Linked DNA regions of Homo sapiens: all the other regions are linked to region 3. Evidence: fine-mapped expression QTL. A gene starts in region 3. Each other region holds a variant in brackets. All regions are shown on one strand. Distances are from middle to middle.

Evidence for each region.
Region 1: its variant is fine-mapped to the expression of ITPKB-IT1 in whole blood (TOPMed, PIP above 0.99).
Region 2: its variant is fine-mapped to the expression of ITPKB-IT1 in whole blood (TOPMed, PIP above 0.99).

What each region holds. Positions count from the first base shown.
Region 1 is chr1:226,652,593-226,655,347 of GRCh38, reverse strand. The region is part of intron 2 of ITPKB (inositol-trisphosphate 3-kinase B); the gene reads left to right. Among named protein-coding and RNA genes, the nearest start is that of ITPKB-IT1, 21 kb to the left of the region's middle. RefSeq lists enhancers at 984-1,575, 1,571-1,760. The variant T/C (reference allele first, on the strand shown) is at 1,702.
Region 2 is chr1:226,633,163-226,635,917 of GRCh38, reverse strand. ITPKB (inositol-trisphosphate 3-kinase B) reads left to right here. Exons shown (of 8, transcript NM_002221.4): 8 at 1,032-2,755. The coding sequence ends at 1,247. Among named protein-coding and RNA genes, the nearest start is that of ITPKB-IT1, 41 kb to the left of the region's middle. RefSeq lists an enhancer at 1-754. The variant C/G (reference allele first, on the strand shown) is at 1,560.
Region 3 is chr1:226,673,689-226,676,443 of GRCh38, reverse strand. It overlaps ITPKB-IT1 (ITPKB intronic transcript 1), which reads left to right and starts at 1,376. Exons shown (of 2, transcript NR_103784.1): 1 at 1,376-1,527. The region is part of intron 2 of ITPKB (inositol-trisphosphate 3-kinase B); the gene reads left to right. RefSeq lists a silencer at 245-394.

The DNA of each region.
Region 1 (2,755 bases), 21 kb after region 3:
CTGGCTGAGCAGTCACAGGGCATGAGAAGGGCCCCGAGCTTGGTGAAGTTCTGCTTTCCCCATCATGACATTCTTACTGAATTTTGGACAAGGGACCCCTCATTTTCATTTTGCATGTTATGTAGATGATCCTGATGATAGCTAAAGCATTTTGTAAGTGGGGTGGCCAGAGGCCCACACATCCCCACAGCCTAGAGTAGGGTAAACCTGGGTCTCTCCTTCCCCTCCTTCCTCCCTCTTCTTCCTCCTGCCCTCCTCTTCCTCCTCCCCTCCTCCCCACCTCCTCTTCTTCCTTCTTCTCTCCTCTTCCCTGTCCTCTTCCTCCTCCTCTTTCCTCTTCGTACCCTCCTCCTGCTCTCCCTTCTCTCTCCTCTTCTTCCTCCCTCCTCCCTCCTCTTCCTCCTCCCCCTCTTCACTCTTCTCCTCTTCTTCCTCTTCCTCCTTCCTCCTCTTCCCCTGTCCCCAGCAGTCCTTTTTTGCCTGCCTTATGAACGACAAAGGCTAGACCTGGAGGTTATGCCCGTTTGCCCTCTGATTTGTTGAAGGCAGTGTTTCCGTACAGCATGACTGAGGATGCCTGATGGGAAGGACCCGGGGAGGATGGCGTCACCCAGGAACCGTTAGCATCACGGGAGGGTTGGGACTTGATCCAGAAAAACACACAGAATCAGACCCTCCCCAGGCAGCCCCACTGGCTCGGGGCAGCTCCAAGGATGGGCTGGAGGTGGGGAGGAGTAACTGCTTGCCCAGGAAGGCTCCACACCCACCTGCCACAGAACCCTGGGTCTGTTTTATGGCTCTGTGTGTTGAGCAGGAGGAGATCATTCTGTGTAGGCCTTGGCCCCCAGGGAGTAGATTCCCATCTGCTCTTCAGACCAGGAACTTCTGGGAAAAGGGGAAGAGGAAAAGGGAGACAAAATGTGGCATGCCCTGAGCTTCCCCAAGGCGAGGGCTTCCTACTCCCAGGTGACGTGGGGAGCAGAATCGGGAGCTGGGGCAGGCTTCTCTCTGTTGCAGGGGAATGTGGCTGCTGTCTGCCGGCTCCTCAAGCTCCCTTCGCCTCTGACTTCCTGTCTCCTCCAATGCAAAGATGGTTGGGGTTTTGTTGTCAGATTTTTTCCCTCCCACTACAAATCTCTCTCCACATTCTCTGAATATTTTAGCTCTTTCAAGTCGGGTGCCAGGGGACAAAACCACACCAGAGGTCTCCAGGCCTCTCTTGAGTTTCAAAGAATCACTCCCCTCCCCACCACCACCACCCCTCCCTCACCCTGGTCCGGCTGTTTTCTGATCCTTTCTTTCCACATTTCTCTGAGTGAATTGAAGCTCCATCTTTCCCTGCGCTTCTGGAGTTCAGCACGAGACTCTCTTACAGAGCAGGGTCCAGGTTGCAACAGGCAGGGGTGACAAATGTCAGCAGCAGGCACTGCCCACCCTGCCTGCAGAGGAGCAGCTAAGCAAAGCTCAGACCAGTGCTCTTGTAACCAGGAGTGCAGCCACCTAGGGAGTTCCCCAGCTGGTTCGCATCCAAGCCTGTGAGGCCGGGGGTTACCTGAAAGACCTCATGCCTGGTCTTCAGTTGGTTTAACCACCCTGCCCAGAATCAAAGTAAAAGCCGTGTGTCTCCAGCCCACTCCACTGCCCTTTACCTACCCAGGGGCACCCCTGCGTTGTGGTGCTTTCCTTTCCACCGAAGTGTCC[T/C]CAAGAACATCACAAGTGCAGAACTCCATCCGGAGTCTAGAAGTGTCTGGCTGCTCTGATCTGACACATGGGAGAGCTTAAACCTTGTGTCATCTGACAGCTGCACCGGAAGTGGCACCTGAGCAGCCCCAGGGAGGGATGTATCTGGGGTTTCGGTGGCCAGCTTTAGGGGCACCAGGGGCCCTGGGCTCCTCTGCTAACGGAGCAGCCAGAAAACTTCACTGGGCTGGCACCCTGGCTGTCCAGGGGAACCGCCCTGGAGGAATCTTGCTCTTGTCCTTCCTGCCCAGTCTTCTGCCTCTTGTCCCCTCATCCTGCTGTCTCGAGACTGGAAGGGGCACTCGGAGGTGGGCCCTCACTCGTTGATAGGCACGGAAGTGGGTGAACTGGCTAGAGGCTCCCCATGTGCATGGTACCTACTGGCAGGGCATAGAATGGGATGACTTTGGAGAAGTAACTTGCTGAGCCTCAGACTCTTTCATCTGTAAAATGGAGAAAACACTCCTAACTAGAACATAGGAACAAGGCCATAATTCTCTAACCCGGGCCTGTCACATAGCGAGAGCCCCATAAGTGGTAACAGGTATGAGTGTACACACCGTGCCATGGTACTGGTGCACGCCTGCAGAAATGGGCCCTCCTATCTCCCCGAGAGATGACAAAAGCAATGCCGGCCAGCAGCAAGTCCCCCTGCACAGTACTACTCAGCCAGCTTAGGAAGAAACCCAGCACATCCACTGGCTAGGCCGACCCCACATCTGTGTGTGAGGAAGTAAGGGTCACAGCAGAGCTGGCCACCTGCCCCAGGTCTGCCAAAGAGAGGCTCACAGCCCCAGGAGGCCAGCAGGGACCTGCCACACATAGGGAGCTTTGGGAGCACTCCGGGAGGTGTCCACAAGGGATGTCTCGATTCCCCTGATGACTGGGAGGTGATGCAGGAGCAGGTGGCCAGCTCTGCCCTGGGCAGGGGACCAGGTACCCTTTGCCACACCACGTTCAAGGCATTTGAAGGCCACTTTTGTATTTCCTAGAGCTGGGCTTGAGAGGCTGGAGA
Region 2 (2,755 bases), 41 kb after region 3:
TTTCTGTGCCCCCGGCCTTCCTCTGGCCCCACTGAGGTGATGCAGGGGTATGTGTGGCCATATTTGGGAAAGCGCCTCGCTCCCATGCAGAGGCTCTGAGCTCACCCAGGAGGGGCAGGCTCTTTGGTGCCCACTATCCCTGGGCCAGGCTGGGAAGGCCCTATAGGGTCTGCCCACGCTGAATCTGCAGGGGTTGTGCTGCTGGGGTGGGGGTGCTGTGTGCATTTGAAACAGGTTCTTCACCACCCCCGCCCCGGGATAGTTTGGACGCTCCTGGGCACCTTCCCCTTCACTGTGGTTCCCTGCAGAGTGTTTGGGAGGAGTCAGGTTCTAGGAGGCGGAAGGGCGAGGCCCCAGATTGGGTTGTGGTCTAGAAAGAGTGGAAAGTTTGCCCAGGTGCAGTGTGATTCATGCCCGTAATCTCAGCACTTTCCGAGGCCAAGGCAGGAGAATGGCTTGAGCTTAGGAGTTTGGGACCAGCCTGGGTAACATAGTGAAACCCTGTCTCTACAAAAATAAAAAACAAAAAGTTAGCCGGGCATCGTGGTGCATGCCTGTAGTCCCAACTACTCGGGAGGCTGTGGTGGGAGGATCGCTTGAGCCTAGGAGATCAAGGCTACAGTAAGCTGAGGTTGCACCACTGCACTCCAGCTGGGGCGACAGAGTAAGACCCTGTCTGGAAGGAAGGAAGGAAGGGAAGAAAGGAAGGAAAAGAAGGAAGGCAGGAAGGAAGGAAAGAAAGAGGGAGGGAAGGAGTGGAAAGTGTGCAGGCCAGAGTCAGGGGGTGAAGGGGTGCCTGCTGCTGCCCACACAGAAGGGTGGTCGCCGACCCTGGAACCCGATGCCCTCTGCCCAGGCATGGCCATTCTTGGGCCGGCTCTGCTGCCTGTCTGAAAATGGGGATTGGAATTGCAGGCACCCAACTGTCCGGCCTGAGCGAGCCTCCCCACCTGGTCACCCAGGCCCCGGGCCGCAGTGGGGAGGGCGAGGCCCGGGCTTCAGCTCACCCTTCACCCCCATGTTCTCCTCAGGTCATTGGCAGCTCCCTCCTCTTCATCCACGACAAGAAGGAACAGGCCAAAGTGTGGATGATCGACTTTGGGAAAACCACGCCCCTGCCTGAGGGCCAGACCCTGCAGCATGACGTCCCCTGGCAGGAGGGGAACCGGGAGGATGGCTACCTCTCGGGGCTCAATAACCTCGTCGACATCCTGACCGAGATGTCCCAGGATGCCCCACTCGCCTGAGCTGCCCACGCCCTCCCTGGCCCCCGCCTGGGCCTCCTTTCCTCCTCCTGTGCTTCCTTTCTCGTTCCTAACTTTTCCTTCACTTACACCTGACTGACCCTCCTGAACTGCACTACAAGACACTTTGTAGAAGAGGAGATGAGAGTTTCTAGTCATTTTCCTAACTTCAGGGCTTGGAGGTGGTGTTTGCACTGCTTTTTGTAGAGAGGGTCACCTACTAGAAGAGAAATGCCCAGTCTTAGAGGTGGGTCAGGTGTAGAGCTGGAGGGGGTCCCTGGCTGCTGAGGGGACCCTACCAGATGAGCCCTGCCT[C/G]TGGGAGCCCCCTAGGAAGCACCAGCCTGGACCTACCACCTGCGGAGGCCTGCTGCCCCCTGGCGGCCAGTGCTGTTAGAGTGCTGCCAAGCACAGCCTTATTTCTGCCGGGGCCTCCCCACCGGAGAGCCCAGGGGGCCGGCCGGGTTCCTGGTCCCTGGCTGGGAGCAGGGCTTTCTGGTAGTTGGGGCACAAAACCATCGGGGAACCACATGTTGACTGTGAGCAAAGTGTCTTCCGATTAGCAGCCTCAGGGATGCCCTGGTGGCCTCTCCAGGGCTGCTCAGGCAAGGCCCCCCACCCATCTGGTATGGAAACCTGCCGGCTCCAGGCCAGACCCAGGAGCCAAGAGAAGGCTGAAGCCAGCTTGGCTGTGTTCTCTGATCTAGGCCTTCCCAGAGGAGGCGAGCAGAAGCTGTGCCACTTGGAATTGCAACCCATGAGTTCAGAAGGCACACTCTGCCATGCTGAGCTCCAAGGGTGCTACCAGGGGAAGATGGGATCTATAGAGTCTCTGGGCCCTGGCCCCAGGGAGGAGCACATTTTTCTTGACCCTCACCTACCTGGTGCTAGTTGGTCAACCCTGCCTGCATACATGGGCTCCTGTCATGGGGCCCAGAGTCCCTTGCAGATATAGAAATAGGGGAGGAGCTCAGGTCTGCGCCAGGCAGGAAGAAGGCAGGCTTCTGGCTTCCAGAGGTGCCGCGGTGGCCTCCTGGCATCATTTGTTATTGCCTCTGAAACAAGCCTTACTGCCTGGAGGGCTTAGATTCCTGCTTCTCCAATGTAGTGTGGGTATCTTGTAGGGTATGTGGTGGATGCCAGGGCGTGCTCCAGGCACCTCTTCCTGAAGTCTCTGCATTTGGAGATTCGTGGAGAACCTATTTAAGCCCAATTTTAACTGAAAGCCAGTGAGTCTGATATGGAAGGGAATGTAAAATTTGCCTGACTTCTTAAGAACAAAACCCCCAGCTCTGTGCCCCATGCTCCTTGGGGCTTGCCACCCACTCCTTTGCTGTCAGAGGTACAGGAGCTGGGAGAGTCCAGGAGCTAGGGACACAGAGGGAGACTATGGACCAAGGTGTGTGTGTCTGGAGGAACCACTGCCCACCCCACCACCCCGGGGTCTCTGGGGAACTGTCAACCTGCCCACGGGACATGTACATTTCCCCTTTTGTGCTGGAAGTGTGAGTGAC
Region 3 (2,755 bases):
AGCTGTTTTTCCTTAACCATCTTGCCTCTCACTGAGATGAAACAGCAGGATGGTTCCTGGGACCCAGGATCCCTTTGAACGCTTGGATTAAAATAATTTATGAGTTCTTTGTGAGTGTGTGTGGACCTGCTGGTAGTGGCTTTTCTTCATTAGAATTTGCATGCAAGATTGACACTAAGATGGCTGACTTTCACCATCCCAAACCAACCCTGTTTTTGCACCGTGCTGTAGTGGTATGAATTACCTTGCAGGTAATTGTGGCTTAGGTGATGGTACACAAAAGGCATCATACAGCAGCCAGATGTTCATTTTACTAAATGGAAAATATGACTCAGAACACGGGCCAATCTGAGCCTCCAAGCAGGCAAATTAGCCATTGAGGATGAAGTCTTCACCTCTGGAGAGGAGAGAATGTGGGAGCACAGAGCCCAGAGTCAAATGATTTGGTTGAGATCCCCCCACTTTGGTTATTTAGACTTGCTTATACTCCTCTGACCAGACTATGGGATCTTCTACAGAAATTCTACAGAAGTGTGGGCAGAATTACAAGTAAGGTGGGTTGAGGAAGTGCACAGGTGGAAGTGTAGCCGAGAGGATGCGTTTGAGGAGCAAGAGGCTGGGACTCAAGAAGGCTTTATGCAGACTCGAATCTTACATTGATAACAAGCATTTGCGTAGCACATACGAGTTTCATCCTATGAAGGATTCCATAGGATTCTCACAGCAGCCCAAGGATGTGAGCAGAGCAGTAAACAATATCCCTGTTTTATAGAGGAAGTAGAAATCGAGAAGCAGGAAGGTTGGGTAATTTGCCCAAAGTTCCACCACTAGTAAATCGCAGAACTGGGACTAAAGCCCAGGTCTTCTGACCCTCACTGGGCCCAGCGTTCTTTCCAATATGTCATCCTGCCATTTTCCCCTTCCTTCCTCCTCCCCACAGCTCCTTGCAAGTTCAGCCTGCTGGAGGTAAGGGAAGTGATCATGAGAGTTTTTCCAGTGCTGAGACGTTCTGGAAAAAACATGGACCTGTATCTGTGTCCTGATCTGTGCTTCGTGATTGGACTGTCTTGACACTCGTCTCAGGACTCTGGGGAGTGCTTGTGCAAGTGTTTCCCAGTGTGGCCGGCTTCTTGAACGCTGCTAATGGAAAGTTGTAAGAGTTCTATTTTCCTGTTTCAAGCGAGCGTTTCCCCCTTGGGGTTATAGCAACCACTTCCTCCTCAGCACCCGGTGGGTCGTGGTAAACACCAGTTACAGCAGAGTATCCCCTTCTGACAACCTCATTGGTTCCTTTTTTTTTTTTTTTTTTTTTTTTTGCCTGTAAGCACATACACACAGAGTTCTGAAGGCTAGGTCTCCTTTCCTTCTGGTTTAGAGTTTTCAGAGTACCCTGCTGTGGCCTTGGAAACAGAAAACCCACACAGAGGTCAAACGCAGTTCTCGTGGAGTCACCTTGTCATCCTGCTTTGTTTTGGAAGGAACTGGGTCGGAGGCAGCACAGTAGGACTACAGCATCTTTAACCCTTGGTAGGATGGCTGGATCCGCTGAACGCTTGTGGGTAAACAGGAAGCTCACAGCCTCAGTGGATCATTAAGGGTGATACAGAATAGACACGAAAATCTTAAGTGGGATGGGAGCAGAGCAGGACTTGGTGGGTAGATAGTGAGGAAAAGGAGGCAAATAGGGATGGTGAAGAAATCGAAAGGGAATGGGGGATACAAGGAAAGGGTCAGGAAAGGGTGAGTAAAAGGTTTAAAGAGAGGTGCTAATTTTAGATACTTAAAAGTATTTTAAGTATCTAAAACTTGTGGCTGGGTGTGGTGGCTCACTCCTTTAATCCCAGCACTTTGGGAGGCCAAGGCGGGCAGATCACCTGAGGTCAGAAGTTCGAGACCAGCCTGGCCAACATAGTGAAACCCCGTCTCTAACTAAAAATACAAAAATTAGGCCAGGCACAGTGGCTCACGCCTGTAATTCCAGCACTATGGGAGGCTGAGGTGGGTGGATCACGAGGTCAGGAGTTCAAAACTAGCCTGGCCAAGATGGTGAAACCCCATCTCTACTAAAACTACAAAAATCAGCCAAGTGTGGTGGCAGGTGCCTGTAATCCCAGCTACTCGGAGGCTGAGGCAGGAGATTGGTTTGAACCTGGGAGTTGGAGGTTGCAGTGAGCCGAGATGGTGCCACTGCCCTCCAGCCTGGGCAACAGTGAGACTCTGTCTCAAAAAAAAATGTGTATATATAAATACTTAAAAAATATTTGTAATTGCTGGTTTGGGGTTACTAGAATCTCTTCTGAATCTGTCTCAGTTTTTCTTACAGCTTTTAAAATCCATGGAACTCTATCACCAGGAGATGATTGTGGTATGGAGCTGATCACCCCGGAGTTAGTGGGGTGGCAACTGAGATCGGGGGGAAATGGAGCAGTTTGAGGATATATGGGCCGTGAAAACCTCCCAGCTCTGCCCCCAGCCATGCCATGAAAGTCATGGGGAAGAAAGGCCCCCATTTGTGTGTTTGTGTTATTAAATAGAACAGTAACAGAGCAGGTCTCTGAGCCTGCCTGGCAGAAATCTTTCTGTAGCAGGAGTGTCCTGCAACTCTCTGGTGGATTTGCAAAACAGTACAGATAGAAAAACTTAAATGGGAAACAAGCTTGTCTTGTCCTACTTTGTGGAGATAGATAATAAAGCCGAAAGGCCAAGAAGTGTAAATATATAGCATATATCTAATGTATATGGTATATGTACATAT